2 linked regions of the Homo sapiens genome follow. The protein of the gene in region 1 purifies or fractionates together with the protein of each later gene. This does not show direct contact. Each region holds a gene or a part of one and is shown in the gene's direction. Other genes may lie near its edges.

The links. The genes of interacting proteins can lie anywhere in the genome.
Region 2: the proteins of KAT6A (region 1) and ZNF512 purify together in Homo sapiens (affinity purification with mass spectrometry, with the first as the bait; one large-scale study listed by BioGRID). This does not show direct contact.

Annotation. Positions count from the first base shown.
Region 1 is NC_000008.11:42,041,988-42,045,487, reverse strand, and holds part of KAT6A (histone acetyltransferase KAT6A), read left to right. Parts: intron 1-1,912; exon of another isoform or gene 1,913-1,984; intron 1,985-3,500. UniProt on the Homo sapiens protein: Histone acetyltransferase that acetylates lysine residues in histone H3 and histone H4 (in vitro). Component of the MOZ/MORF complex which has a histone H3 acetyltransferase activity. May act as a transcriptional coactivator for RUNX1 and RUNX2.
Region 2 is NC_000002.12:27,596,542-27,600,041, forward strand, and holds part of ZNF512 (zinc finger protein 512), read left to right. Parts: intron 1-1,525; coding exon 1,526-1,713; intron 1,714-3,041; coding exon 3,042-3,137; intron 3,138-3,428; coding exon 3,429-3,500. UniProt on the Homo sapiens protein: May be involved in transcriptional regulation.

The DNA of each region.
Region 1 (3,500 bases):
CAGGTTCAAGCAATTCTTCCTTCTCAGCCTCCCATGTAGCTGGGATTACAGGCATGCTGACCACCATGCCTGGCTAATTTTGTATTTTTAGTAGAGACGGGGTTTCTCCCTGTTGGTCAGGCTCATCTCGAACTCCCAACCTCAGGTGATCCGCCCACCTTGGCCTCCCAAAGTGCTGGCATTACAGGCATGAGCCACCCTGCCTATAGTGTTAACTGAAGTAACTAAATTTAGACATGTTGGAAAATAGAGTTTGTTTCTTCAGGTAGACTTGTATATGTACTAATCTCATTGGAAAACTAATTTCATGATAGTATCTATTCAATTAGAGTTGGTGAGCTCTGTTCTATATTTTTAAATGGAGTCTTATTTTCAGTAGTGAATTTCCTGTGTGACTTCCCCCAAAGATATGAAAAGTTTACATTAAAAATCGTAATACAGTGAACTCTAGGATGAGAGATTATTCCTTTGAACAGATTATGTCTGCTCCTTTTATTGTATTTTAACTATTTTCTTTCCTCTCCTTCGAACTACGCAGTCAGTTGCTATGCAGAATTGATAGTTTGCTGTTACGAACCTAGATGTTCTCAAAAAAAGAAAAGAATTATCCAGAGTTTATTTGACAGTGATGGAGAAAGGAAGGTGTATAGGTCAGGAGTAGTTTCACTTTTAGGAATTAATTGGTTCAGCATATAGTCATTGAGCACCTACTGTGGGCCAGGCACTCTGCTTGGAACAGAAACAGTTCTGTCTTCTCTGGGATGCTAATGCAGGTATTTCTATTGACCTGGCCAACTGTAAGGTGAAGATGAAATTCAAAGACTGCGTGGAGTAACCCGAGCAAGTTCCTCTTTACTTTTTCTGGTATCAATTCTAACTTTTTGTTTTTTTTTGGTGATATTAACCTTTGGAAGGAACTGTATGTTAGATTTTCGGCAGCTGAGTGGTTTTGATCCTTTTGGGAGATCAACTGTGTTGGAATACGTTTAAGAGGAGTTTTTGTGAAGACATTGGAACTTTAGTGTGTTCTTTTCACATTGATAAGTACTGAGGAGAATCCATGGGATACTGTGATTAAAAGTTTTTAGGCCAGGCCTGGTGGCTCAGGCCTGTAATCCCAGCACTTTGGGATGCCGAGGGGGGGGTGGATCACCTGAGGTCAGGAGTTCAGGACCAGCCTGGCCAATATGGTGAAACCCCATCTCTACAGAATACAAAAATCAGCCCGGCATGATGGTGGGTGCCTGTAATCCCAGCTACTCGGTAGGCTGAGGCAGGATAATCGCTTGAACCCAGGAGGCGGAGGTTGTAGCGAGCCTAGATTGTGCCACTGCACTCCAGCCTGGGCAACAGAGCAAGACTCCATCTCAAAAAAAAAAAAAAAAAAAAGTTTTTACCCATGTTATAAGGGAAATTTTTGAGCTAACTTTAGAGTGTGGTAGTTAATGGTGAGTTTATTTATTAAAGTGTTTATTTACTATGTGCCAGGCGTTATTTTAATGCTGTATATATATTAACTCATTTAATCCTCTAACATAACTAGCTACTGTTAGGTTAGTTAGTTATTAATAACATAACAGTACCAGCAGTGAAATAGCTACTGTTATTTTACAGGTGAAGAAACTGAGGCATAAAAGAGATTTCAGTAACTTGCTGAAGTCACACAAATATTAGGTGGCAGAGCTGGGATTTGAATTTGGGCAGTCTGGCTCCAGAGTCTTTGTAATAGCCATACTGACCACCTCTTAGGAGCAGTAATGTATGATGGCTATCACTGCACTCAAGTACAGAATCGTGAATGTCCTTGGTGTTAACTTCATAGCACATTTCCTAATTGTTAAAGGACAAATTCCCGCCCGTCTTCATTGTGTCCATTTTTCTTTTTTTGCAGAACAGATTTGAAAATTCACTTTGGACCAGTGATAAGAATGTGTTAGGAACCAAAGATTAGGAGTAATCTAGTTTTGTATATCTGAGGTCCATTAAAAAAAAGTTTCACCTACATGCCATTTTTTTCCCTTAAAGATAATTTCTGTGCTAACTAATTTTCATTTCAGTTGTCACTAACATTTTCTGATAGGCAAGGTAGGGATCAGTTGTATTGCTATACCAGAGTGCTTTAATTTGGGACAGAAATACTGTTTTCCTTGAATCATGGGATTATAGGTGAGGAGAAGAGTGTGTAACTGGCTTAAATAGCATCTTCCTCTTTGTAAATTTCTTTTTGAAATATAGATATTACTGTAAGGTAATTTGTTCCATTTACTTCAGTTATTCATTATTTATTTAGCAAACATTTGAATGCCTGCCATGAACAGTGGATTTAAGATTTAGGTCCTGTGAGGGGATTAAAGCAGACAGAATAGAGATACAAAATAAATTTTTTGAAAGCCTTTTTTAGTTTATGAACTGTAATTTTTTTACATTATTATTTTTTCATAACAATTAAGTATCATGACTCAGAAATAATAATATGTTTAGTGGGCAAGGCAATTATTTGAGACTGTGATGGTCCATTTAAAAAATTATCTTTATATAGTGAGTCTTGGAAAGATTCAATTTCCTTTCAAGAATAGTTTTCACCTTGATTTCAAACTTCTGAGTTCATTTTTACACACTGACATAATTTACTTGAATATATATAGTTTGTGTTCTGTATTACTAGCCCAGAAAAATATTCTCTTTCATGGTAATCAGCCAGATCATTAAAAGTATTGTTATTTGGTGGCATAGTATTTTGGAACAGAATTATAATTTGCTAAAGCGTTCAGTTGGACAGGGAAGAGTAGGTATTGTCAACTAATGTTATTGTTCAGGTTACTCCCAGCTGGGTAACCTGGAGCAGAAAGATCCAATGATAAATCTCTTGCCTTCTACTCTAAGTTACATCTCAATTTGGTCAACTCTTAGTAGAGTCCAAATTATTTTGTTTTATTGGAATTTATATTTTAAATTATAGAGGAAGTAGAGCTTTGACAGGAATTTAGAATTTAAATTTTCGATGTAGAGATACTGATTAAAATGGGGATTTTTTTTTTTTTTTTGAGAGATGGAGTCTTGCTTTGTTGCCCAGGCTGGAGTGCAGTGGTGCAACCTCCACCTCCTGGGTTCAAGCGATTCTCCTGCCTCAGCCTCCCGAGTAAGCTGGGATTATAGGCGCATGCCACCATGCCCGGCTAATTTTTATATTTTTAGTAGAGATGGGGTTTCACCAGGTTGGCCAGGCTGGTCTCGAACTCCTGACCTCATGATCCGCCTGCCTCGGCCTCCCAGAGTGCTGGGATTATAGGCGTGAGCCACCGTGCCCGGCCAGGGATATGTTTTTAAGTTACTGAAAGTTAAGAGTGATGAAGTTTTGATTTAGCTATTTGGAAATGACCTTTATAGTAGAATAGTTGCACATTTTATATGTTAGAATGGTGGTATTTTATAAGAAAATTGTTAACCAATATAAGCTTGGAAATTTCAATTTCAATTACTCTGTTGCGTTGATACTGTAT
Region 2 (3,500 bases), on another chromosome or scaffold:
CCTCATTGCAAATTCTTACTTGAGGGAAAAAGACAGAATTGGAAAACTCACCCCATTTGGGGCACTTCTCCCAACTTTGACTCCCCTGCATAATTTACTTGTTTTTGTTTGTTTTACAGAGTCCAGTGAGCAGGAGGGGTGGGCCTTAGTGGGCTTAGCTGCCCCTCCAGAGCCAGGACTTCTGTGTATTAAATTTGTGTTATTGGACCTCATGTGTGGAGAGCCGAAACTCATTCTTCCCTATTTGTAACATACTGACATAACCAGTCTCTGTTATGTTTACTCATCCCCATTTCCATCCCCTCCCTCCTAGAGGAAACTGTATAAACAAGTGTGATGTTTGCACTTAAATATTTATGACTCCTTTAAAAAATAAGCTTTAAAATAAGCTGCTTTATGTGTGGATTTGTTTTTAGCTTGCTGAACTGACATTGTGCTAGAGATACTGTTTTGTTTCTTTTTTCATTCAACAATATACTTTTTAGTTATGGTCGTGTCTCTATGTGTAGAATTAGTTTATTGCTTCTAACAGCAGCACAGTATTCCATAGTAGGCATCTATCACATTTTGCAAGGATGGTCACTGTGTTACTTCCAACTCCCTGATGTCATAAGCAAACCTCTCTATGTGTAATTCTTATTAGCTCTACATCTAAAGTGTTACCTTGAATCTGCCAATTCAAGTTAACTTTTTTCCTTTTGTTTACTCTTTCTCCCATGGGCTGTCTCCATAGAGCAGCCAGAAGGATCTTTCTGAACCATAAATCTAAAGTAGGCCTCACAGGTATTTAGCTGGAAAAGGGAGGTTCTAGGAGTCCATTGACCACTCTTGGAGAACTGCTGCTCTGCTGCATCTTGAGCCACCTAGAAGAATGTCTGATGCTTTGTAGTTACAGAGTAATGTTTTTTAGCTGTCATACTGACTGGTCTTAGATTTTGGAATCTGGATTCAGCTGTATACCAGAAATCTCTGGCCAGGTTAATTCATGCAAGATAGCATCCATCCTTTAGCTGTGGAAGCTAAGTATCATGTTGCCTAAATAAGATAGGGCATCAGGTTTTAGGGAGAATGCTGAGGCAGAAGGAAGATGAGTCAGATTAGGGCCCACAGACTATTCCTTTCCCTTAGAGATACCCTTTAGTTGCCATCCCTCTGTCAGAGAAAGAGAGAGGCTGGGACATACCAGGTTACAAATCCAGGGAGTCTTCTGAAGGGTCATAGAACACCTTTATTGCTTCACCTACTTTCTTTTATTAGATGAATCTAGGAAGGAATGTCTACTTGGGCTGCAAAGTGATCATTTATGTGTACTGCTTACTCTTATTACAATGAAGTGTGATAATAATTGTACATGTTGTGTTAGATCAACTATTGTTATTGTTAGGTGATTACAACTTACATTCTGTTTTTATAGCAGGCTTCTTAGTTTTCTGCAGAGGTAACCAACTTGGTTATAATGTAAAAGAATGTATAGAAATTTTGCTCCAGACCTTCCTTTGTGGTATATATTTTTATGTTGTATTAGTAGCAGGACCCAGTGCTCCATAAAGGATAATAGTTTCCAGTACACTATCCCTCATGATGACTCCTTAAGTGGTTCATCGTCTGCATCTTCGTGTGAACCAGTGAGTGATTTTCCAGCATCTTTCCGAAAATCTACCTACTGGATGAAGATGAGAAGAATCAAGCCAGCTGCTACTTCTCATGTCGAAGGTATCAATATCAGTGTCTTATTCTGAAGACGGGCCACTTCCTAAAGTTATAGTTTGAGATTGTTATAAATACCTCTTAAAAGTATTAAATGGCGGCTGAGCGTGGTGGCTCACGCCTGTAATCCCAGCACTTTGGGAGGTCGAGGCGGGCGGATCACAAGGTCAGGAGATCGAGACCATCCTGGCTAACATGGTGAAACCCCGTCTCTACTAAAAATACAAAAAATTAGCGGGGCCTGGTGGTGGGCGCCTGTAGTCCCAGCTACTCAGGAGGCTGAGGCAGGAGAATGGCATGAACCTGGGAGGCAGAGGTTGCACTGAGCAGAGATCGCACCATTGCACTGTAGCCTGGGCGAAAGAGCGAGACTCCGTCTCAAAAAAAAAAAAAAAAGAGTATGAAATGCCACATATTTGTTTCTCATTAGTGATTTAAAAAAATTTAAGGTGTTAGGCAATTGCATCCTGTCCCATTAGCTTCATGAACTGCTATGTGATAGAGTGAAATTCTGCTAATCTTACTCCTCTAGATTATATTTAGCATTTGATTTTCCTCTTTGTAGTATTTGAATTCCCCTTTTCTTCTTCTTTTTTTTTTGAGACGGAGTTTCACTCTTCTTGCCCAGACTAGAGTGCAATGACTCGAGCTCAGGCTCACCGCACCCTCCTTCTCCTGGGTTCAAGCGATTCTCCTGCCTCAGCTTGTAATGCCAGCTGAGTAGCTGGGATTACAGGCATGTGCCACCACACCTGGCTAATTTTGTATTTTTAGCAGAGACGGGGTTTCTCCATGTTGGTCAGGCTGGTCTTGAACTCCTGACCTCAGGTAATCCGCCCACTTTGGCCAAAGTCTGTAATCTCAAAGTGCTGGGATTACAGATGTGAGTCACCATGGCTGGCCCCCCTTTTCTTCTAGTGTGATCCTCTGTTGATGATTTAGGGGCTGGTGTAAGGATTATTCAGGGGAGAATATTCTGGATCGTCACAATCTCAAGGGTCCTTGGTGGCTAGCCCTCTATCTTGAGCAATTCTTATCCTCTTGTTAGCCTCAAGTCAAGATTAAGCAAAACACATTGCTTGAATGCCCTTATTATTCATAAGGAACAATGGATGATTTGGAATAGATAACAATATAAAAAGAAAGGGAGAGTGGGTCAGTTAATGAGAAGTTACACCAACTTCTCTAAAAATGTCACAGACATTTCTCTGAGGCCTGTGTTCACTGATGATCTTTCCTTTTGATGGTCTTGTGAATGATGTTTTGAAGACAGGCCTAGATGTTCATTTACAAAGTGTGCTGAGTTTTTGTTTTGTTTTTGTATGGTACTTCAGGGTCAGGTGGAGTATCAGCCAAGGGGAAAAGGAAACCCAGGCAGGAAGAAGATGAAGACTATCGAGAATTTCCTCAGAAGAAGCATAAGCTTTATGGTAAGGCAGTAACTTTGCTACTTCTTTTTCCTTGGGTGACTGAGCTTTATTCTTTGAGGGTAAAGGAAAGAGAAGCCTTAGTTTGAGCCCTTCAGTGACCTCTGAGCCCTTTGAATTGTTTGGGAGGGAATGGCCTCCATCCTGCCTCATTATACCCTTTCATTCTGTCCTGACTTAGGCAGTCAGTCGGTTGAGGGACTGGGAAATAGGGTGTTGAAGAGGAGGAGAGGGAAGAGATTTTGGTATTAGCAAGGGTGACATGCTGGGCTTCAAGTTTCTGTCTTATGTCAGGGAGGAAGCAACGGCCTAAAACTCAGCCCAATCCCAAATCCCAGGCCCGTCGTATTCGGAAGGAACCACCAG